Linked DNA regions of Homo sapiens. The protein of the gene in region 1 purifies or fractionates together with the protein of each later gene. This does not show direct contact. Each region holds a gene or a part of one and is shown in the gene's direction. Other genes may lie near its edges.

Evidence for each region.
Region 2: the proteins of ISX (region 1) and ZYG11B purify together in Homo sapiens (co-immunoprecipitation; one large-scale study listed by IntAct). This does not show direct contact.
Region 3: the proteins of ISX (region 1) and SEPHS1 purify together in Homo sapiens (co-immunoprecipitation; one large-scale study listed by IntAct). This does not show direct contact.
Region 4: the proteins of ISX (region 1) and KGD4 purify together in Homo sapiens (co-immunoprecipitation; one large-scale study listed by IntAct). This does not show direct contact.
Region 5: the proteins of ISX (region 1) and DCK purify together in Homo sapiens (affinity purification with mass spectrometry; one large-scale study listed by BioGRID and IntAct). This does not show direct contact.
Region 6: the proteins of ISX (region 1) and BASP1 purify together in Homo sapiens (affinity purification with mass spectrometry; one large-scale study listed by BioGRID and IntAct). This does not show direct contact.
Region 7: the proteins of ISX (region 1) and CMC2 purify together in Homo sapiens (affinity purification with mass spectrometry; one large-scale study listed by BioGRID and IntAct). This does not show direct contact.

The regions. Positions count from the first base shown.
Region 1 is NC_000022.11:35,085,523-35,087,887, forward strand, and holds the end of ISX (intestine-specific homeobox), read left to right. Parts: coding exon 1-171; 3' UTR 172-1,865; downstream 1,866-2,365. UniProt on the Homo sapiens protein: Transcription factor that regulates gene expression in intestine. May participate in vitamin A metabolism most likely by regulating BCO1 expression in the intestine.
Region 2 is NC_000001.11:52,820,453-52,823,952, forward strand, and holds part of ZYG11B (protein zyg-11 homolog B), read left to right. Parts: intron 1-986; coding exon 987-1,177; 3' UTR 1,178-3,500. UniProt on the Homo sapiens protein: Serves as substrate adapter subunit in the E3 ubiquitin ligase complex ZYG11B-CUL2-Elongin BC. Acts to target substrates bearing N-terminal degrons for proteasomal degradation with the first four residues of substrates being the key recognition elements.
Region 3 is NC_000010.11:13,324,294-13,327,793, reverse strand, and holds part of SEPHS1 (selenide, water dikinase 1), read left to right. Parts: intron 1-3,500. UniProt on the Homo sapiens protein: Synthesizes selenophosphate from selenide and ATP.
Region 4 is NC_000005.10:69,220,760-69,224,259, forward strand, and holds part of KGD4 (alpha-ketoglutarate dehydrogenase component 4), read left to right. Parts: intron 1-3,500. UniProt on the Homo sapiens protein: Molecular adapter that is necessary to form a stable 2-oxoglutarate dehydrogenase enzyme complex (OGDHC). Enables the specific recruitment of E3 subunit to E2 subunit in the 2-oxoglutarate dehydrogenase complex (OGDHC).
Region 5 is NC_000004.12:71,017,649-71,021,148, forward strand, and holds part of DCK (deoxycytidine kinase), read left to right. Parts: intron 1-3,500. UniProt on the Homo sapiens protein: Phosphorylates the deoxyribonucleosides deoxycytidine, deoxyguanosine and deoxyadenosine. Has broad substrate specificity, and does not display selectivity based on the chirality of the substrate.
Region 6 is NC_000005.10:17,269,631-17,273,130, forward strand, and holds part of BASP1 (brain acid soluble protein 1), read left to right. Parts: intron 1-3,500.
Region 7 is NC_000016.10:81,004,086-81,008,353, reverse strand, and holds the start of CMC2 (COX assembly mitochondrial protein 2 homolog), read left to right. Parts: upstream 1-1,468; 5' UTR 1,469-1,620; intron 1,621-4,268. UniProt on the Homo sapiens protein: May be involved in cytochrome c oxidase biogenesis.

The DNA.
Region 1 (2,365 bases):
GATCAGCTGGCCTCTGCCTGGTTCCCTGCCTGGATCACCCTCCTCCCAGCGCACCCATGGGAAACACAGCCTGTCCCAGGTCTTCCCATCCATCAAACTTGCATCCCTGTGCTATGCATCCTTCCACCTCCACACCCCAAATGGGGCAGCATCTGTGCTACTTCAACATAGAGATTGGACATGCTCTCCCCAAATGAGCCACTTTCCTCTCCAGGTGAAGGCAGGTAGCAGATGTGCCCTGGGCCTCTGGGGAAATCGATTTCACAATCCAAAAATGGCCCACAGCCCAGGAAGCTACCCTGAACATGCCAGTTGGAAGGCTGCACCAGACTCAAAAGCAAACTAAACAATAAAGGACAGCTCTCTTCTCTCCTGGCTAAAGCTGCTCTCCTGGTTCAGAAGACAGGCTGGATGAGATCTCAGGCCGAGCTCTGAAATAGGGAGGTAATCCTCCAGCACCTGTGTTTCCTCTAACTTGCTGTGTGACCTCCAGCCGGTCACTCACCCTCTCTGGACCTCATCTGTAAGAGGAGCCAGCTGGATAAGATGATTTCTGAAGACGCTTCCATGGTGGGCACTGAGGCACAGAGGAGGCCAAGGAGAGGTTGTTTGTTCATGCATGCATTCATCCGTGACACATGAGTACCTACTGAGGACTCCATAAACAGAACGGGATACAGAGATAAACAATTTGGGTTCTGTCCACGTTTGTCAAAAGGTGGTGCTGGCCCACCTCTGAAAGCAGAACACTTGCTCAACAACCTTGCTGTTGGCCCAAGTCTAACACATTCTTTATGACTGTGAGCATCTCAGAGTGAGAGAAAAATGTAGAAAGTTTTTTAAATTCTAAACAGGATTTAGTGTCTTTAGTTATCTTGCTGGATGGGAAAGGGATGTTGTCATTTCTGGCACAAATGAAAAGTAGGACGGAAAGCTCCTTTCATTCAGTTTATCTTTCCAGGATATATGAAAAGGGACCAGCTGGAAGACTAGCCTCACTCTGTCCTCGAAAGCCTGAGCTTTCATTCAACTCCCTATTTCCATGCAAAGACGCTGGGCAAACCACATGTTCTGTCTGAGCCTCAGTTTTCCTATCCATAAAATGAAGGTAGCCAGGCCTGCCTCAAAGAGCATTCAGGAGGCTCTGAGAGGACATGAGAGTATTTTGCAAAGTGAGGGCAAGGCCCAGTGTGGAGTGATATTGTTATTCCAAGATTCCACTGCAAAAGTGGCTGCTTTGGATGCCAGCCCAGGATGAGTAGTTCCTGTTCTCAGGGAGGTCATCCGCTGAGCATCCCTTCTGCACAGATGTCTCTGATTCTTGTCCTTGCAGGTGGAGGACAGGGCCTGCTCCCCTAAGCTGGGAAGCCTGGAATGACCTCTTGCACAAGCCTAAATTCCAGGAATCTTCCCCAAATCCCAGATCCTCTGCAATCTACCTGCACCCCTGACCCACCCAGGAGTTGGACCGGGAGTTGGGAAGCCTAGGTCTTAGTCCTACACTCCTTCTAATTTGCTGTGTAACCTTACCATTAATCTCTCTGGGTCTCAGTTTTCTCATCTGTATTGGAGGTAGCAGTGCTAGCTCTGCCTTCAGGCATGCAATATGCCAGAACTACAGACAACAGCCCACAGGATGCAAAAGTGCTTTGCCATCTTAAAAATGCCAGATCACTCAGAGCCTATGAATGTGGATATCAACACCAGGTCTCTAGCACCGCTGGATGAAAGGAGAAGGCTAGAGGCTGAGGGAGGAAAGAGCAGTTAACAAACAAAGGCAGTAGCTCATCACTTGGGTAGCAGGTACCCATTTTAGGACCCTACACTCAAATGTGCAAAATAAAATTTCTATCATTTTGCTATAACTGGATTTACTTTCTATGTTGTTTGCAGGAAATGTATTCTGGTAACTTCTAGGTTACTGATGCCTCAGGCACTTCAGGTTTAAAGGCAGTCACTTGAGATCGTTGCCCTCTGTTCCCCTTCTTCCCACAGGGGTCTTTGCTAGGCTGAGGGGCAGGGTTGGAGAAGTGTTTATGCAAATGCCACCTCCAGCCTCCCAGAGGGGATGTTTGCTTCCCAGCTTTCTCAGTCTCCTACTAGTGTCTTATCTAGCCTGGCCTTGGGCATGACCCCTCTGCCCTAGAGATGTATCACCCCATTCAACTCCCTATTGGGGGTTCACTCCACATCCTCCGCTGTAGCCTCTCACCACAGTTGTGAATCCTCGCTGGCTTCCTCTCTTTCTCATGAGCAAGAGGAAAAGCTGACAACTATCCCACACACTTCTAGGGCCATGGGAGCCCTGGGCCAGGCAGCAGGTCTCATTCATTCTAGACCTCCTACAGCCATTTCTCATGCCCTG
Region 2 (3,500 bases), on another chromosome or scaffold:
ACTGGCCAGCGTGGTAAAACCCCACCTCTACCAAAAATACAAAAATTTAGCCAGGTGTGGTGGCTGGTGCCTATAGTCCCAGCTACCCAGGAGACTGAGGAAGGAGAATTGCTTGAACCCGGGAGGCAGAGGTTGCAGTGAGCCAAAATTGTGCCATTGGACTCCAGCCTGGGCAACACAGCAAGCTGCAGTGAGCCATGATCACACCACTGGGCATGAGCCATGATCACCCCAGCCTGGGCAACAGAATGAGACTGTCTTTAAAAAAAAAAAAAAAAAAAAAAAGGCTAATAAAATATTTCAAAAATTTAAAAATTGTATGTGCAGTATGAGTGCCATTAAGTTTTTAAAAAGCATAGTAAATGCAGCCTGGCATTATGGCTCATGCCTGTAATTCTAGTACTTTGGGAGGCTGAGGCGGGAGGATTGCTTGAGGGCAGGAGTTTGAGACCAGCCTAGGCAACATGGTAAAACCCCATCTCTACTAAAAATAAAAAAATTAGCCAGGGGTGGTGGCATGTGCCTGTATTTCCAGGCTGAGGCACAAGAATCGCTTGAACCCAGGAGGCGGAGGCTGCAGTGAGTCGAGATTGCGCCACTGTACTCTGGCCTGGGCAACAGGGCAAGACTCTGTCTAAAAAAAAAAAAAAAGCATAGGAAATGCATAAAAATATAACAACACTTACCTGTGATTTTGGGTCAAAGATAAGGTAGTTATGATTGTTTTTATTTTTTTAATACAGGTTGTACATGTCTTGAGGTTAGAAAAATCAAGCTAGCTATTTATTGATTGAATGTGTAGGCCTTGCACTGTAGACGTAACATCAGTATAGAGGTTATTTATCAAGCTGTAGCATGTTAGTGATCAATAACAAAACAGCTAAAAAAAAATGGCTCCTAGAAGTCATTTTTTTGTGGAATAATTTTCAAGTGTTTTAAGAAAAGCTATTTCTCCTGTTTTGTGTGTGTTTTTTTTTCTTTTTCAGCTTCAAGGTATTGCAGCATGCTGATTGAAGAAGGAGGATTGCAGCATTTATACAACATCAAAGATCATGAACATACTGATCCCCATGTCCAACAGATTGCTGTGGCCATTCTGGATAGCTTAGAAAAACACATTGTGCGCCATGGGAGGCCACCTCCCTGTAAAAAACAGCCCCAAGCCAGACTAAATTGATAGCCATAAGTATTGGATAGTTGAATCACAGGAATCCTTTTTGTGATTGGTCCATTTGGAATATCTTACCCTCCCTGATGTTTTGGGGGTTTCTATGACAAGAGTCATAAAATCAGTTTGGGATTGATAATGTGTAGTACTGCCCATGTGAACAGTCTCTAATTTGTCTTGTGATTTTAAACTTATGAGTCAAGAAGGGTCTCTTCCTTTATCATTGCCTTTTAGGAAATTTTCCACATCTTTCAGTGTTTGAACTTACTTGTGCTTGAGATTCTACAGTTTTATGGTAAAGTTTGCACGAACCCTTAGGCCAGACTTTTCTGATCTCAGAGTCCCTTCCAATCAATTTGCAGCTTCACATAAGCTGTTGACCTGATTTCTGACACTGCTTCAGTTGTAAATTTTATACTGCTTCTGTATAAAATGCCTTTCTTCTCTATCTGTGTATATTTTATAAGATGTCCTTCTTAGTGTGAAAGAAGGGAAATGTGGATCATCTTGTGGAAGCTAATCACTGGCAGGAGCCTGGATGGCTGGCGGAAAGATATATGAGAAAGAAAAATTATGAAGGTAGAACAGAGTGTAGGAACTGGGAATTGGTTTCATGGTATAGGTTTTAAAATGAGACAGGCTACCCTTCGGGAGTCCACCTCTCTTGAGGCGGTGAGCAGAAGCTTGTCCTCCATATTTATACCTAGAAGTGTGGACTGCTGGTTCCTGCACAGACTGCCGGTTATTCACTAGGAATATTTCCCCAAGCACCACAGTATAAAATACTACAGCACTCTGTGTTAAAGACTAACTGTCTACATCTCCATATGTTGTAGTGTTGTGAAAATGTGATTTTAAAAAATTATCGCCAGTTAAAACTGGCTATTCTTTTCCTCTATTTCAAAGTCATTTTTGTTCAGTGGAATAGAGACAGCAACATGGTGTTAACCTCTCAATTAAAATACAATTGACACCAGTAAATTTTGCCATAAAAAGTTAAAATCTCTTGTTCAAAATATGTGTATCTTCTTAATGTGTTCATGTTAGAGAAAGTGTCCCCATCTCACTGCCAAAAATGAAAGAAAATAATTAAACTCTTTAAATGATTAAATGTAATGATTCTACTCGCAGTGCATAACAGCACATATTTTTGACAGATTATTTTTTAGGCAATTACCTTTCCTTAAGGTATCTGATACAGTATAGTAAAGAATCACTTATATCAGTAATAGCACTTGAGAGATAGCAAGTCACCAAGAAACTTAATTTTCATTTAAAATTTTATTTTGTGAATAAGGTCAATCTACAATCCCAGATAACTACATTTTTTTTCATAGATGGCCAGTGTTTTCAACAGAGATTTAAAATGGAATATTAAAATTATAGTGATTATTCAGAAGCATTTTAATTTAGAAAGGAGCTGGTTTGTTAGTTCACTGATGACATTTTTTGACAAACATTTTATACCATTATCACAATAATCAGACTTGAATTTTTTTTGGAGTTCCTTCATGTGAATGAAAACTGAGTTAAAAGAAAGTAGGCATTTAGGTCTGGATGCAGTGGCTCATGCTTGTAATCCCAGCACTTTGGGAAGCTGAAGCAGGAGGATTGCTTGAGCCCAGAAGTTCAAGACTAGCCTGGGCAACATAGTGAGACTCGGTCTCTACCAAAAAAAAAAATTTTTTTTTTTTAAATTAGCTGGGTGTGGTGGCACCTGGGAAACAGAGCGAGACGCTGACTCAAATAAATATCTAAATAGATATTTAGAATCACTGAAAACCATATTAAATGCTGGGTTAATGCTGACTTAATTGGCTTAAGGAATTTTTATAGGCGTAAGATAAATTTTCACAGACTAAGTTTATTTCAGACAAAATAGAGAATTCTTTTAAAAGTTTTTTTTTTTTTTTTCCTTTTTCGAATGTTAATGTCTAAGACAAAGTTCAGAAAACGAGATGGCCTGTGGTAGTTTGGAAATTGCTAGATATGTTGACCGTTTCCAGGTCTTTTATCTAGTGTAGTTAAGGGAAAGCCTATTTAAGAAGTTTGGCTTCAAGTTTCTGTTTTATAAGACAAAAGTGCATATTTCTTTACAGGCTAATGCTAGGTTTTTGTCTTTACAAATTATTTTCAGAAATGGCTAAAAGTGTACAGAAAACAGTAAATCCCTTCTTTACTCAGAATAACTTCTTAATAGTTGAAGCATCCAAAATATGTAAAAGCAAGGGTGGGCGTAGTGGCTCTTGCCTGTAATCCCAGCATTCTGGGAGGCCGAGGCGGGCAGATCACTTGAGATCAGGAGTTCGAGACCACCCTGGCCAACGTGGTG
Region 3 (3,500 bases), on another chromosome or scaffold:
TTTTGGCTGTGTTGATTTTTCCACTGGCTTCTCTGCTCTCCTGTTTCACACTGGGGCGACTGCTATGGACTTCCTTGGCCCAGCCCTCTGAGGCACGTGTAAGAGATCAGTACTGGCTCAGCTTTTATAGATAGTGCCAAACTGTCTTCCAAAGTGTTCACCACAGTTTACAATGGCACACTATGTTTAGAAAGCGTTTTTTAATATGTCTTCTCTTCCCATTTATTTTATACATTTTTTCTACTATAAAAGAATTACATGCTTATTATAGAAAAGTTTTTAGAAAATGGAAAATAGTACAGAAAAAAGTTGTCCATAGTCCCTCCACCCAAAACAGCTCCGGCTAGCATTTTTATGTATTCTTCCAGGACTTTTTTTCATGTTTGGCTGGTGATTTACTATTGTTGTTTTAAAGTAGTGGTTAGTATAAGTTTTCACTATGTAATGGTTAGTATATGTATTTGGAGTGCCTGCTTTTGTTGTTTTGACATGACTAATGTTTCCCATATTATGTATCCTAGTAAACTTTTTTTTTTTTTTTTTTTTTTTTTTTGAGACAGAATCTAACTCTGTCGCCCAGGCTGGAGTCCATTGGTGTGATCTCGGCTCACTGCAACCGCTACCTACCAGGTTCAAGCAGTTCTGTTGCCTCAGCCTTCCCAGTAGCTGGGACTACAGGCACGCATCATCACCATGCCCGGCGGATTTTTGTATTTTTGGTAGAGACAGGGTTTCACTATGTTGGCCAGGCTGGTCTCGAACTCCTGACCTCAGGTGATCTACCCTCCTTGGCCTCCCAAGGTGCTAGGATTATAGGCGTGAGCCATAGTACACATAATTTTTAATGACTAGATAATGTTCTACCAGAGAAATGTACCACAATTATCTTTTACCTATTGTTTTACAATTCATTTGGAAATAAAAATTTTCTGTAATTTGTTGTTACTTGTAAGAAAGTTATAGCCAGGCACAGTGGCTCACACCTATAATCCAGCACTTTGGGAGGTTGAGGCAGGAGGATCACTTGAGTCCAGCAGTTGGAGACCAGCCTAGGCAACATAGTGAGACCCCATCTCGTCTCTTTAGCTGCGCCTGGTGCATTCCTGTAGTCTAAGCTACTCGAGAGGCTGAGGTGGGAGGATTACTTGAGCCCAGGATGTTGAGACTGCAGTGAGTGGTGATCATACCCCTACGCTTCAGCCTGGGTGACAGGGTGAGATCATGTCTCAAAAAAAAAAAAAAAGTTATAGATCAGAGGAACAGAATAGAGAATCCAGAGGTAGGTCCATATTATAGTCAACTGATTTTTTTTTTTTTTTTGAGATGGAGTTTTGCTCTTTCGCCCAGGCTGAAGTGCAGTGGCAGGATCTTGGCTCACCGCAACCTCCGCCTTCCGACTTCAAGTGATTCTTCTGCCACAGCCTCCCAAGTAGCTGGGATTATAGGCGCCCGCCACCACGCCTGGCTAATTTTTGTATTTTTAGTAGAGATGGGTTTTCACCATGTTGGCCAGGCTAGTCTTGAACCCCTGACCTTGTGATCCGCCTGTCTCGGCCTCCCAAAGTACTGGGATTACAGGCGTGAGCCACTGCACCTGGCCTAGTCAACTGATTTTTGACAAAGGAGTAAAGGCAATTCATTGGAGAAAAGAGTCTTTTCACCAAATGGTGCTGGAACAAGTGGACATTCACATGAAGAAAATTATTCTGGATGCAGATCTTATACCTTTCGTGAAGATTAACTCAAAATGAATGTTTAGTGTGTTTTCACACTGCTATAAATAGCCAAGACTGGATAATTTATTTATTCATTTATTATTATTATTATTATTTTTTTTTTTTTTTTTTGAGACTGAGTCTCTTTTTTTTTTTTTTTTTTTTTTTTTTTTTTTTTTTTTTGAGACGGAGTCTCGCTGTCGCCCAGGCTGGAGTGCAGTGGGGTGATCTCGGCTCACTGCAACCTGTGCCTCTCAGGTTCAAGCGATTCTCCTGCCTCAGCCTCTGGAGTAGCTGGGATTACAGGGCGCACGCCACCACACCCCACTAATTTTGGTATTTTTAGTAGAGACGGGGTTTCACCATGTTGGTCAGGCTGGTCTTGAACTCCTGACCTTGGCCTCCCAAAGTGCTGGAATTGCAGGCGTGAGCCACCATGCCCAGCTGACTGGGTAATTTATAAAGGAAAGAGGTTTAATTTACTCACAGTTTCACATGGCTGGGGAGACCTCAGGAAACTTACAGTCGTGGCAGATGGTGAAGGGGAAACAGGCACCTAGGTTCTTCATGAGGCAGCAGGACAGAGAAGAGCAGGGGAAACTGCCACTTACAAAACCATCAGATCTCATGAGAATTCATTCACCCTGACGAGAACAGCACGAGGGAAACCGCCCTCATGATTCAGTCACCTCCCACCAGGTCCCTCTCTTGACATGTGGGGATTACAATTCGAGATGAGATTTAGGTGGGGACACAGAGCCAGACCATATTGATGATTCGTAGACCTAAATAAAACACAACAATATAAAACTGGAAGAAGGTAACATCAGAGAAAATTGAGGTGGCTTTGGGTTTGGTGATGACTTTATAACACCAAAAGCACTATCTATTAAAAAATTGCTAAGTTTGGCTTTATTAATATAAAAAACTTCTGCTCGGTGAAAAACACTGTTAAGGAAATGAAAAGACAAGCCACAGACTGGGAGAAAAATTTTGCCAAACACATACCTGTTCAAGGTCAGGTATCCAAAATATACAAAGGACTCTTAAAACTCAATAATAAAAAACAACTCAATTTAAACATGGCCCAAAGACCTTGACAGACACCATGAAAGAAGATAACGCAGATGGCAAATAAGCATAAAAGGAAACCTTCAGTGTGGTACGTCAATAGGGAACTGTAGATTAAAGCAGTGATTGAGATGCCACCACATACCTGTTAGAATGGCTAAAATCCAAAACACTGAGAATAGCCTGGGCAACATGGTGAAACCCCATCTCTACCAAAAAAATACAAAAAATTAGCTGGGCATGGTGGCTTGCGCCTTAGTCCCAGCTACTTGGGAAGCTGAGGTTGGGAGGATCCCTTGAGCCCAGGAGGTCGAGGCTGCAGTAAGCTGTGATCGCACCACCTCACTCCAGCCTGGGTGACAAAGCGAGACCCTGTCTCAAAAAAAACCCAAAAACACTGATAATACCAACTGCTGGCAAGGATGTAGAGAAACAGGAAGGAACTCTCATTTATTACTGGTAGGACTGAAAACTGGCACAGCCACTTTAAAAGTCAGTTTGGCAGTTTCTTATGAAACTAAATATGTTATTATATGATGCAGCGATTGTGCTCCTTGATATTCACTCAAAAAAGTTGAAAACTTACATTCACACAAAAGCCTGCAGACAAATGTTCATAGCAGCATTATTCATAATTGCCAGAACTTGGAAGCAGCCATTCATTTCTTCAGTAGGTGAGTGGATGAATGGATAAACAAAATGTAGTGTATCTGT
Region 4 (3,500 bases), on another chromosome or scaffold:
GAAAAGAAAGAGAGATCAGATTGTTACTGTGTCTGTGTAGAAAGAAGTAGACACAGGAGACTCCATTTTGTTCTGTACTAAGAAAAATTCTTCTGCCTTGGGATGCTGTTAATCTATAACCTTACCCCCAACCCCGTGCTCTCTGAAACGTGCTGTGTCCACTCAGGGTTAAATGGATTAAGGGCGGTGCAAGATGTGCTTTGTTAAACAGATGCTTGAAGGCAGCATGCTCGTTAAGAGTCATCACCACTCCCTAATCTCAAGTACCCAGGGACGTAAACACTGCGGAAGGCCGCAGGGACCTCTGCCTAGGAAAACCAGAGACCTTTTTGTTCACGTGTTTATCTGCTGACCTTCTCTCCACTATTATCCTATGACCCTGCCACATCCCCCTCTCCGAGAAACACCCAAGAATGATCAATAAATACTAAAAAAAAAAAAAAAAATTAGCCAGGCAGGAGGGGTAGTGTGTGGGTGTGTACCTGTAGTCCTAGCTACTTAGGAGGCTGAGGTGGAAAGATCACTTGAGCCCAGGAGTTTGACGCTGCAGTGAACCACGATCACTCCACTGCACCCCAGCCTGTGTAACAGAGCAAGACCTGGTCTCAAAAAATAAATAATAAAGTAAAACATTTTCAGACTGGCTAACAAATGAAAATCCAGTGCTATGCTATTTATAAGAGGCATAGCTAAAACTAAGATTTGGAAAGGTAAAAATAAAGAGATAGTCAACTGATCTTTGACAAAACGAGCAAAGGGAATACAATGGAGAAAAGATAGTCTTTTCAACATGGTGCTGAAAAAATTGGATATCCATCTAGACACAGACCTCACGTTCTTCACAAACATTAACTCAAAATGGATCCTAGACCTAAATGCAAAATGCAAAACTATAAAACCCTTAGAATATAACATAGGAGAAAATAAAAATAACCTTAGGTTTAGGAATGACTTTTTAGATATAACACCAAAGGCATGATCCATGAAAAATTAATTGATAAGCTGGACTTCATTAAAATAAAAAATTCTGCTCTGTGAGACACTGTCAAAAAAAGGCAAGCCACATATTGGGAGAAAATACTTTCAAAAGACATATCTGATAAAAGACTATTATAGAAAACATAAGGCTGGGCACGGTGACTCATGCCTGTAATCCCAGCACTTTGGGAGACCAAGGCGGGCAGATCACCTGAGGTCAGGAGTTCGAGACCAGCCTGGCCAACATGGCAAAACCCCATATCTATTAAAAGTACATTTGTATAAGTATATAATACATATTTACATGCCTATACAGTTAGACCTAACTTACAAATGGTTTATTCACGTATTTGGCAACTGTTACTTGGGCATTTACCATGTAACAGGAATGCTACTGCAGAAGTGCTTAGTTTTCTGTCTCTGACTGTCCAGGAGCTTAGTGCTCTTCTATAATCATTGGCTAACTTATCTGTCCTCTGAAAACATAAGGAGAGTTTTTAACTCAGACTTTGGAATTTGGGAAAGGTTCTTAGAGAAGAGTGACATTTGAGCTGTTGTAAAGGATAAGCAGTCAGAAGGATAGGCATGGAAGTGGAATGGGATAGGAGGGAGATTTCATGGCAGAGGACGTAAGCTGTAGATGGAATGAGGATAAATAGGATGAATTGGGGAAAGGAAAAATACTTCAGAATACTTGGAGCAATGGGTACATAAGACAGTAGGGGAGAAAGGCTGGCAAAGTAGGGAGAGGCCAGATCACAATGGGTGTTGTGAGTGCCAAAGAAGAGTTTGAACTTTATCCTGAAAGCTGTGGAACATTTTTCAAACTTCTTTTTTTTCTTCTTTTAAGTTGTAGAGAGGGAGTCTCATCTTCTTGCTCAGGCTGGTCTCAAACTCCTGGGCTCAAGCCGTCTTCCCAAAGTGCTGGGATTACAGGCATGAGCCACTGACCTCAGCCAGTTTTCAAACTTCTAAATAGGGGAGTGATGATAGGATAGATAGAACATTCTCTTAAGAAGCTTGGCTATGAAAGTGAAGAAACAGTTAATAGAGAAGTTTTTTTTTTTGAGACAGAGCCTCTCTCTGTCACTCAGGCTGGAGTGCAGTGGCTCGATCTCGGACTTCCACTCCAGGGTTCAAGCAATTTTCTGCCTTAGCCTCCCGAGTAGCTGGGATTACAGGCGCCCACCACCACGCCCGGCTAATTTTTTTATTTTTTTAGTAGAGACAGGGTTTCACCGTCTTGGCCAGGCTGGTCTTGAATTCGTGACCTCATGATCCACCCGCCTTGGCCTCTCAAAGTGCTGGGATGACAGGCGTGAGTCACGGTGCGCAGCTTTTTTTTTTTTTTTTTTTTTTGAGACAAAGTCTTGCTCTTTCACCTAGGCTGGAGTGCAGTGGCACAATCTCGGCTCACTGCAACCTCTGCCTCCCAGGTTCAAGCGATTCTCCTGCCTCAGCCTCCCGAGTACCTGGGACTACAGGTGTGTGCCACCACGCCTGGCTACTTTTTTTGTATTTTTAGTAGAGACGGGGTTTCTCCGTGTTAGCCAGAATGGTCTCGATCTCCTGACCTCATGATCCACCCACCTCGGCCTCTCAAAGTGCTGGCATTACAGGTGTGAGCCACCATGCCCGGCCGAGAAGTTTTTTAGCATGGAAGACTTGAGCATGATTTTATGGTGAGGGAGAGAACACATTCCAGCATTTTCTCACAGCCACAGAATTACAGTGGTGAATTTTTAGGCCAATCCCATACCTATTTGCTTCTGTGCCCACATAAAATGCATAATATGTACTACAAATATATAAATATATTGCAGATAAACCCACCTCAGTCTTATTCGTTACATAGCAATTTATAGATTAGTTGAAAATAGTACTTTGTTCATTAGATTCTTAGCATTGTATATTCAGAAGATTTCATATTGACAGGTCCATTTAAGGTCCTCTGTACCACTATCTGGAATTTTACGGACAAAAATGTTAATACTTTTCAAACATCTGTTCCAAAAACAGTATTCCAAAAATATGTATTCCAGGCCAGGCATGGTGGCTCACGCCTGTAATCCCAGCACTTTGGGAGGCCGTTCGAAACCAGCCTGGCCAACATGGTGAAACCCTGTCTCTACTAAAAATATAAAAATTAGCCGGGTGTGGTGGCGGGCACCTGTAATCCCAGCTACTTGGGAGGCGGAGGCAGGAGAATCACTTGAACCCTTGAGGCGGAGGTTGCAGTGAGCCATGATTGCGGCACTGTACTCCAGTCTGAGTGACACAGCAAGACTCTGTCTAAAAAAAAAAAAAAAAAAGTATTCCTATGGGTATAGGAAAAAGACTAAAATAAAGTGCTATCAAATGTTTTAATTTGGGCCGGGCATGGTGGCCCATGCCTGTAATCCCAGCACTTTGGGAAGCCGAAGCAGGTGGATCATTTGAGGTCAGGAGTTCAAGACCAGCCTGGGTAAAATGGGGAAACTCCATATCTACTAAAAATACAAAAATTAGCGGGGTGTGGTGGC
Region 5 (3,500 bases), on another chromosome or scaffold:
AACCATCATTCTCAGCAAACTGTCGCAGGGAAAAAAAACAAAACACTGCATGTTCTCACTCATAGGTGGGAATTGAACAATGAGAACTCTTGGACACAGGAATGTGAACATCACACACTGGGGCCTGTTGTGGGGTGGGGGGAGGGGGGAGGGATAGCATTAGGAGAAATACCTAATGTAAATGGCGAGTTAATGGGTGCAGTACACCAACATGGCACATGTATACATATGTAACAAACCTGCACGTTGTGCACATGTACCCAAGAACTTAAAGTATAAAAAAAAAATTTATATATCAGGGCAATTAAAATCGTTGTTAAAAATTTACTGTAAATGATTTTTAACAGCAGCCTAATTTATTGTATGCATGTACTATTATTTACTTAATATAAATGCCTAATAATAGTGGAATGATAACCTATTCGCTTAGCCTTGTGATAAATACCTTTGTGGTTAAATTTGTATTCTAGATTATTTCTTTTTTTTTTTTTTTTTTGAGACGGAGTCTCGCTCTGTCTCCCAGGCTGGAGTGCAGTGGCGCCATCTCAACTTGCTGCAAGCTCCGCCTCCCAGGTTCACATCATTCTTGTGCCTCAGCCTCCCGAGTAGCTGAGACTACAGGCGCCTGCCACCATGCCCCGCTATTTTTTTTGGTATTTTTAGTAGAGACAGGGTTTCACCGTGTTAGCCAGGATGGTCTCGATCTCCTGACCTTGTGATCCACCCGCCTTGGCCTCCCAAAGTGCTAGGATCACAGGCGTGAGCCACTGCGCCCGGCCTAGATTATTTCTTTAAAGTAAATTTTCAACAGTGGAATTAATTGGGCCAAAAGGTACAGGTTTTTTTTTTCCCACAAATGTAGCTAAACTGCTTTCTATCTAACCATGTTCTACCAATTTGTATTTAATGTAGTTTCACTCTGACACATTCATATTTTTTATCTGGATAGTTTGCAGAGGGGAGAACTTGATAAAATTAACATTCAGTTTGGTAAAGATGATGCACAGTATTTTTTAGATTTTTTTTTTTTTTTTTTTTTTGAGACAAGAGTCTTGCTCTGTTACCCAGGCTGGAGTGCAGTGGCACAATCTTGGCTCACTGCAGCCTCCACCTCCCAGGCATAAGCAATTCTCCCACCTCAACCTCCGGAGTAGCTGGGATTACAGGTGCACGCCACCATACCTGGCTAATTTTTGTATTTTTTGTAGAGACAGGGTTTCGCCATGTTGCCCAGGCTGGTCTGGAACTCCTGAGCTTAAGTGATCCGCCTGCCTCGGACTCCCAAAGTGCTGGGATTACAGGCCTGAGCTGCCTCACCTGGCTGGATAAATTTTTAATATTCTTAACATTTATAATTGCATACAAAAAACCCTAGCAATTTGTCTCAAATTTCATGCATAGGATCAAAAGAAAATGTTTTATATGACTCATAAGTTATCCTGAGGAACCAGATAATGATACCCTGGCTTACTGTTAATTTTCTAATTTGTTACACTATTAAACTAAGAGACAATAACATCTTCATAGCTGAAAATTCTATTTCAGATTTTTGATTCAGTTTGAATTTACATATTTGTATTTTTAGAACTAGTTTATTATTTTTTTGTTAGGTGATGAATCAAGATTGGTTCTCTAAGTTATTTTAATATAGTAAACTTTGAAATTGCTTTGGGCAAGAGAGATTATATTTATTGAGAAATTAAAATAAAAGGAGGTATGTGGTCTTTTTTAGTTAATTTTTTTGTTGTGGCAAAAATATAAAATTTATCATCTGAACCATTTTTAAGTATACAGCTCAGTAGTATTATAAGCATATTTAGGTCATTATGAACAGATCTCCAGAACTTTAGCCTCCTGAAAAGATCCAGAGACCCCTGGAGCTTCTCCTACTATACTTTGAAGAACCTCTATCTTAGAGAATATATTACTTCATCTGGAAAAGACAGACTCACAGAGAACTCTAGAAATATAGTCTTTTAAAACATATCATCTAAAAGATTAATAATTCTTTTTATCATCTTATCCGGTCTGTGTTCATATTTCCCCATTGTCTAATAATGTTTTCGTAATTTTTTGAAATTAGGAGCCAAACCAGGTTCACACACGTTACATTTGGTGGTTGATATACCTTTTATTTTTTTTTAAATTTATTTTTCTGAGATGAAGTCTTGCTCTGTCACCCAGGCTGAAGTACAGTGCATGATCTCAGCTCACGGCAACTTCTGCCTCCCCAGTTCAAGTGATTCTCCTGTCTCAGCCTCCCGAGTAGCTAGGATTACAGGCGCGTGCCACCACGCCTGGCTAATTTTTTATATTTTTGGTAGAGACAGGGTTTCACCATGTTGGCCAAGCTGGTCTTGAACTCCTGATCTCAGGTGATCTGCCTGCCTCGGCCTCCCAAAGTGTTGGGATTACAGGCGTGAACCACTGGGCCTGCCCTTGATATGCCTTTTAAATTTTAATCTATTGATTGTCTCTTTGTTTATAATTTATTTGTTGAAGAAACAGGGTCATTTGTTCTACATAATTTTCCTCATTCTGGTTTTGGCTGAGTGTATCTCTGGTAAAATTTAACATGTTTTTCAGTTCTCTGTATTTCCAGTAAATTTATAGGTAGAGACAGGCTTGATTAGATTTACTTTCAATTCTTTTTTGGCAAGATTCCTAGTTGGTGATGTGTATTTCTTTACATCAAGAAGATGTGTTTTGTGATGTTAAAATCAAACAGTTTAGCTGTTGTCAGATTGATTCATCCGTTGTAAAATTCCCAATTAACTTTTCTCTAATGATAGCATCTATTGCTAATTGTTGCCTCATTGCAGTATATTAGTAGGTGTTGTAAAAGGTGATATTCCTTCTCCAGCCTTCTGAATTTATTGGCTGGGATTCTTCAGGAAAGAAGACCTCTTCCTCATATACCACTTTATTACCCTGAAAGTATTTATACAGGAAAGGCCAAAATAAAATGGGACTTTTTTTTTCTTTTTACCTACATATTCCCAGAATAATTAATTTGTGCCTTAGGAGCCTCAAAACATGACTAGAGTTTTGTTTGTTTGTTTAGAATTATAAACTCATGGATTTTTGCCTCCCATTCATTTTCGATGTTCAAATTATTCTTTCTTTGACCAGTGGCAGCTTATTTATGTTGGCTCCTTTGTCCTTGGCACAATCCCAGTGGTCTGTAGTAGTTTCCTAAAATATACAAGATGAAGCTCATCTTGTATATTTTCTTCCCCAGATTTAGAATCAGAATTCTAATTCCTTTCAGTGGGAAATGGTATTTAGAGATTATAATCTGGGTGATATTTTTGTATATTCCTACAATGTTGTCATTGTTTATAGGCCTTTTGATGGACAGAACTAGGAAAACTTTATAGAAAGAGAAAAATAATTCATGTGTTCCAGATGCTATTTCTTTTTTTTTTTTTTTTTTTTGAGACGGAGTCTCGCTCTGTCGCCCAGGCTGGACTGCGGACTGCAGTGGCGCAATCTCGGCT
Region 6 (3,500 bases), on another chromosome or scaffold:
TATAAGGTGGAAGGGAATAAAACTAGTCACAAGATAGTTGTGGGGGATTTTAAAGATGTAAGTTAGTATCTCTATTAAGCTATTTGACATATGATAAACAAACAGTATTCTTCTGCAGGAAGTAGCAAAACAAAATGACATTTGACAATGTTAGCTTCTCTCATTAACATGGTGTGTTTAGCTTATTAGCCAAGATAAGCTGTAGACCAGGTTTTTACCCTTTACACGTGAAATTTGAGGCATTAAATGAGTAAAAGAATTGGGATTCCTTTTCCATCTTGGTGATCAAAACACTTTTCTCTTGTTTCCTTGGACCAAGTGATGAAGAGGTGGTGAGGGGACAGCAAAAAATGCAATTACATTTCTTCTCTTTATTTTTATTTTTTGAGACAAGAGTTTTGCTCTTGTTGCCCAGGGTGGAGTGCAATTGTGCGATCTCGGCTCACCGCAACCTCCACTTCCCAGGTTCAAGCGATTCTCCTGCCTCAGCCTCCTGAGTAGCTGGGATTACAGGCATGCACCACCACATCTGGCTAATTTTGTATTTTTAGTAGAGACGGGGTTTCTCCATGTTGGTCAGGCTGGTCTTCAACTCTTGACCTCAGATGATCTGCCCGCCTCGGCCTCCCAAAGTGCTAGGATTACAGGTGTGAGCCACCACACACAGCCCCCTCTTCTCTTTCTCTGATCACTCCAATACTCGTTCTAATTGGGAGGAATGGATTTAACTAATCTTTGGTTTTTATCTCTGTGTAGAAACTGATTTCTTGGCAGAATGGACTGTTAATATATTTAAAAAGACTGAAAACCTCTTAGAATCTTAAGTAGTAAAATATTCAGAGCGAAGAAGTAGAGATTTTACCTTTACAATATGGTGACAACAGATAACTGTAAAAACTTCTTTTTCAAATAGAACCAGCAGGAGCATGCATGGAACACATATACCAAACATCTTTCTGATAACATTAAACATTTTTAAAAGATGTTAAATGTTCTTTTCATTGTGGTGCTTCAGATTCCTGATTCTAGAACTTGTGTGTGTGGAACCTGTGTGCTAACTATTCTGTTGGAATTTACCAGCAAAGAATTATCTAAGAATTTTCAAACTAAATGATGGGGGAAGGAACTAACATTTTTGCAGTCCCTGGAAATGTAAAATGTTGTACTCACATGGCCTCACATTAAATTCCCATTAAATTGACATTTAAAAAAATTTTTTTATTTTAAAGGAAACGGAAGGACGATGAGATTAAATAACTTGCCCAAGGATTCTGGGTGGGTGTGCTGTGGAGGTGGGATTTTTATACTCTGCCATGACCCAATGTGCAAAGTCTCCTTGAAATTCAATTCTTGTCCAATATTTACCAGATTAAACTCAGTGAAATTCCTCTCTCTACTACTGTTTATGGTTATTTTCTATGCCAATATTAATCGGTAAGCCTGTCATTTTCGCCCTTGTGGCATCGAGTTTTCTTTGAAGGACAGCTTTTTTGTTTGCTTTTTGTTTTTTGTTTTGCTTTGTTTTGTTTTGAGGCAGGGTCTCACTCTGCCCAGGCCATAGTGCAGTGGCTGATCTCGGCTCACTGCAACCTCTGCCTCCCAGGCTCAAGCCTCCCCAGTAGCTGGGATGATAGGTGTGCACCACCACGCCTGGCTAATTTTTGTAATTTTTGTAGAGACGGGGTTTTGCCATGTTGGCCAGGTTGATCTTGAACTCCTGACCTCAAGTGATCCACCCACCTCGGCCTCCCAAAGTGCTGGGATTACAGGTGTGAGCCACCACACCCGGTCTTTAAAGGACAGCTCCAGAATTAGCTTTTTTCTGAGATGTCATAACAGAGGTCAGTTTTAGTGTTTGGTTAATACATAAACACATAGAACTGAGGTCAGTGCCTTCAGCATTGGTCTGAATTTTGTTGCTGTGCTACAAAATTCTAGTGAATTTCCTAGTTGTGGAGAAATGCAAAGTCAGTCTCGGCCTTTTCAGTAGAGCTTTGGTTTAGTGACTTTTTTAGTTGAAGTGACTTTTCAGCATGGATTGTCTATTGCTGTATTTTTTTAACTGCTTTATTTTAATCTTAGAAGTTCCAACTTCTAACTTTCTATACCAAATGATGTCTTTCAAAATTAGAAGTAACAGAAATGAATGAAATCGGCTGGGCATGGTGGCTCACGCCTGTAATCCCAGCATTTCGGGAGGCCGAAGTGGGCAGATCACCTGAGGTCAGGAGTTCAAGACCAGCCTGGCCAACATGGTGAAACCTCATCTGTGCTAAAAATACTAAAATTAGCTGGGCATGGTGGCAGGCTCCTGTAATCTCAGCTACTCGGGAGGCTGGGCAGGAGAATTGCTTGAACCTGGGAGGCGGAGGTTGCAGTGAGCCGAGATTGTGCTGCTGCTGCACTCCAGCCTAGGTGACAGACTGAGACTGCATTTCAAGAAAAAAAAAAAAAAAAAGAAAGAAAAGAAAAAGAATGAAATCATTAAACTGTATGCTCATTGCTTTCTCTTGGTAAAAAGCTTCTCTGGCAAATAGGAAGATGAAATGTTGAGAGGCAGAGGATACTCAAAATACTGAATTTCTTCCTTATTCCCTCAACACCTGAGTTCTGAACTACCCCAGGTGGCACCATCCTTGTAACCCAGGCGCATAACATTCCTGGGCTGAGAGCTTTGCCCCATTGCCGGCTTCTCAGTGGAGTTCCTTCTATCCCCTCTGTGGTGCCTTCCTGCCTTACTGAATTTTGCTGGACTTGGCCTTTGCTCATAGTACAGCTCCACGAACTCAGCTAGTAGGATTTCCTTATGGGTAAAAGGAGAATGTGAATGGCATACTACCCCATGGTGCTGTTGAGATTACATATTTTATGTAATATATTTATGAGTAGGATTGTGCTTGATACCTAGGAAACAGTTAATAGATGTTGTAGGCAAGGTCTTCACGCATATGGTCTTGGGAAATAATGAGACAATCCTGCTTTTCGAGGGTTCAGGTGGGTCCTATGAGCGTCCCTCTGATACCTCAATATAACCAGTAGAGGTAAATTAGCAAAATGCCAGGGGCGTTTGTTAACTTTGTTTGAAAAACAAACTGGATTGAGACATATTTTCTTACTTATAACTTGATTACGTGTGTTCATTTTCGACCCAGAAACAAATCGCAGCTGGGCATAAAACAAAGAATAGAATGTGGCCTTAACTATGTGTCAGAAAAGCCAGTTTTAGTAACTCAGATTTTAGGTTTGTAACCCAACATGACTTTAAACCTCTGGGGATTGCTGTATAGAATTTCATGCTGTGGGTGTCAGAAAGCAGCACCCCATGTTATACTTACTGGACCCCCTATGTTTGCACTTTATCTTAGTGTCTGTAATTTCTAAGTTGGTGTATGGGTTTCTATTACTGGATTGAGAGAAGATCCTAAAGGCAGACCTGTTAGGTTTCCTGTTTCTTATTTAGCTCAACCTAAGGGACCCAATGTATTTTGAAATATCAGAGC
Region 7 (4,268 bases), on another chromosome or scaffold:
AGGCTACCCGTTAAAATGAAGATTCCTGGGCCCTATCAAATTAAACTGTGAGGAGGGCGCACGGAGGGCTTGAGATTTAGCATCTTTTAAAAAGTACGTCAGATGATTTATTCCGGGTAAAGTTTGCAGAACGCCAGTCTAAAGAAATTTGGTAGAGCGCCCTCAGTCTCACCAATTAAGACGGAAATCCCTTTAGTAAACGTTTACCCCGTGACCATTTTTAAACTTTCCTTTTTTTGTTGTTTCGGAGACACAGTCTCGCTTTGTCGCCCAGGGTGCAGTGCAGTGGCGCGATCTCGGGTCACTGCAACCTCCGCCTCCCGGGTTCATGCGCTTCTCCTGCCTCAGCCTCCCAAATAGCTGGGATTACAGGCACCCGATACCACGTCCGGTTAATTTTTGTATTTTTAGTAGAGACGGGGTTTCACCATGTTGGCCAGGCTGGTCTCGAACTCCTGACCTAAGGTGATCCGCCCACGTCGGTCTCCCAAAGTGTTGGGATTACAGGCGTAAACTACCGCGCCTGGCCCCATTTTAAAACTTTCTTTATACTTCCTAGCGTTTTAGTGTCTGACATACAGTAGATGCTCAAGATCTGTGGAACGCATGATCAAAAAGATCCATTTTAAGTAACGTTCCCGTAGCCACACACCTCTGCTGCGCTCCAACAGGCAATGCGAGGAGCAACGCAAGAGGGTACAGGGACAAAAAACGACGGAAGCCGAGGTGACAGAAAAGCAAAACCCCAACTCTGGGAAAGGAAGCAACCCCAGGATCGTAGAGCGGAGCCCCTGGTCACATGACCACACGGCCCTCCCCTGACGCAGTCGCGAGCCTACGAAAGGCTCCACCCGCCCCACCGCGGGCGAGGTGACGTCACAGCCGGCACAGCGCCACCGCCCCCTCACCTCGGCCCGAACCGTAGTTCCTCGCCCCGAGCCCGAGACCCAGCGCCAATCCTGCGCCTCACAACGTGCGACAATTGCGAAAAAGCCACCCCCGAGGCCTGGGATCTGGCTTCCTCAAGGCCCCACACCCTCCGGGGCCCGATCCAGTGCCGCCCGGGGCTCTCTTACCGGCCCACATCTCCTGCAGTCTCACTCCTCAAGAGCTGTTCCCGCTCGCCGCGCCTTCAAAGCCACCAATTGCAGTTCCCGCCGCCTCCAAGCTCCGCCCACCGGAGCACAAGCATCAGGCTGTGTCTTGGGCACAGGGGACTGCACGGGGGAGCGACTGAAGCGAAGGTCGCCGAGCCCCCCACGCCGCTCTTCTTAGAAGTGTGCAACCTTGCACCAGTAGTGGACTTACACATAGGCTCCGTTAGGACCTGGCTTATGTGCTCGGCTTGTGGCTTAGACGCTGCCGTGCCCCAGTGGACTCACTGTGCCTCCCCCCACGACGGACGGAAATGGGCCCCTCCAGGACAGGCGGCGCATGCGCCTTGGGGCCCGCGGGCGGCGGGGGCGAGGAGCCGGGAGCACGGTGGAGCGGTGGAGGGCGTCACTGGGTTTCGGCGTCTGGCAAGCGGTTCAGCTGTCTGCTCCCTAGCAGCCGGCCTTCGGGTCGGGCGTCTCCGCCGGCTACTGCCGCTTCAGTTCTCCCGGTGTGGCCACGAGTCGGGTGAGTCTCGGGAGTCCAGGCCGTTCCGAACGCGTTCCGTTGTTCCTCCTCAGGTCCCTGATGGCGCGTCCCGCCGAGCCCCTTCCTGCCGCCCGTCGGCCCCAGGAGGTGGGGACCAGGAAGACCCGGCTGCCGCAGGCCCACAGCCGGGCTGCTGCGCTGGGGAGGCTGCGAGCGAGGTGGCTGGGCGCTCGCTGGAACACGCTGGTGGCCGAGACAGGCCGTGGGCGTCGCTCGGGGTTGGGATCCGCCCGCCACTCACTCAACTGGCTGGTGACCTTGGGCGCGCTCCTCCCCTCCCGGAGCCGGGGCTTCCTCGCCGGTAAAATGGACCTTGAGGAATGGAGCCCTCAACACAGGGTTTGACACGATGAGCGCCCAATAAAGTGTTGTTATTGTTGTTTATCTAGCAATTGAGAATTTGCGGGTAGAAAACGGGGGCCGTTCAAGCAAGTCTCAGCTGCAGTGCCCTGTGATGTGAGAACCCACCAAGAGCCCCATCAGTACACTTTACTCTTTTTTCTCCTTTAATGCTTTTTTTTTCCAGGAAAGTAATACATTCATCTTGCTTTTCTTGCGTTTAAAGATCAGGCGTTTTACGTAGAGTCTTAAGTAAATCAGTTTTGGAAGTCTTCATTTAAAACCTCAAAGGCATGGAAGTTTTCGATGGCAAAGGAATTATGTTGTGATGCCATTCGTATCTCCTCTCCTTTATATGTATGGCTTTTGCACTTGTTTAGTTGATTTAAAATGAGTTTCTTTTTCATCCTTTTCCTACTGCGTTGAGGCCTGAACTAGTTGTCAGTTTCTGACATTCCGCGAACATCGATTGGGCATTTACCATGTGCATTGGCAAGAATGCTCCCTCACGAGCCTGTGCGTTCCTTGAGATGTGTGAACGAGTATTTTCCTCTGAAATTCACATGATTCTGGCAGAGTGCTAGGCACCTTGTAAGTCCTGGTAATGTTTATTCAGGGAAAGCTGCGAGGGCGCATTCTCTGAGAAACTCTTCGGTGGAAGTCAGAGTAGTTAAGCCCTTCTCCCTAGGCAGCACCCCCGGGTCCCTCCCAGAAGCAGCCTGGCATGGGGTCTACAGTGCCAGCGCCAGTCGCTTTCTTAGTGGTATCGGTTTAGAACTGGTCCTGTGATAAGTGGAAGTGGGCAGGGGAGGCCGTCCCCGACCGTGTCTGCGACCTCTGCTGCAGTATGGCTCATAGCTTGAAAAGTTGAAAAATAATTCTTTAATACCAGGGCCGAAATGTAGGCCTTAAAAATGTTTTATGTTATTTATTTATATATATATATATTTAAATTTTATTTTGAGACGGCGTCTTGTTTTGTCGCCCAGGCTGGAGTGCAGTGGCGCGATCTCGGCTCACTGCAACCTCCACCTCCCGAGTTCTAGTGATTCTCGTGCCTCAACCTCCTGAGTAGCTAGGGTTACAGGCCACGCCTGGCTAATTTTTGTATTTTTAGTAGAGACGGGGATTCACCATGTTGGCCAGGCTTGTCCTGACCTCAAGTGATCTGCCTGCCTCGGCCTCCCGAAGTGGTGGGATTACAGGCGTGAGCCACCGCGCCTAGCCTAAAAAGATATATTTTAGAAAGCGGAGTGTTTACAGTTTTTTTTTCTGGAGAACAGTTTCTTCAGACTCTGCACAACAGACTTTTCTGGCCTTGTTTTTTGCTTATTTTGCAGTAGCATTAGAAATTACAACTGTAGTGTAAATTTCCTGTGCAGCCGCACAATAGGAAAATCTTTCTAAAGAAAAGCCAACTGGCATTAAAATACAGGGTTCTTCCTTGTGATTATAGATTTGCTGAAGTGAGTTATTAGAATGCTTACCCGTTTTCTTTATACTAGAGTTAATACAGCGCTGGCTCTTGGTTTATTTTCTAAAATTGTGCCACCTGGTGGTTGAAATCTGTCTTAGACTACTCTTGAGGAAAATTGTACCTCAGAGTCAGTAGACAAAGATTGAAGGAGTGAGTAAAAGAAAGCTATAATTTTTATATCTTCACTAAGAGTACCCTACCGCTTCTACCCTCCCAGCTTACTCCCCAGGAAAAGTTAAAATTGCCCTTATGGGCCCCTTAGCTAGCTATCAAAACACATTTGACAGCTGAAAATTTTAAGGAATTTCAGTGGACTGTTTTGGTATCATTGTGTGCATACACAGTGGATGGGGCTGGATTGAGGAGGGAGGTGGTGGAATCGTGACAAGTTTACCTTTTTGATGTTTTCTTAAATGCCATTGTAAAGATGAGACTGACAAACTGATGGAAGTCAGAGTAGTTAAGCCTTCCTCCCCAGGCAGTCCCTGGGGTCGCTCCCAGGAGCAGCCTGGCTTGGGGTCTGCACTGGAATTAAATATTATTCTATTCAAATAATAACAGTTTGAATGGAATTTATCCCTCTCTATTTCACTGGAAACATCCAAGAACGAGGTCTTATGTTCCTTTCACTTTCGTTTCCACCATGCTGCTGATGTTCATAATTATTATTTTTTGAGATGGAGTCTCACTCTTTCGACCAGGCTAGAGTGCAGGTGGTGCCATCTCAGCTCACTGCAACCTCTGCCTCCAGGGCTGAAGCGATTCCCCTGCCTCAGCCTCCCAAGTAGCTGGATTACAGGCCCCCACCACC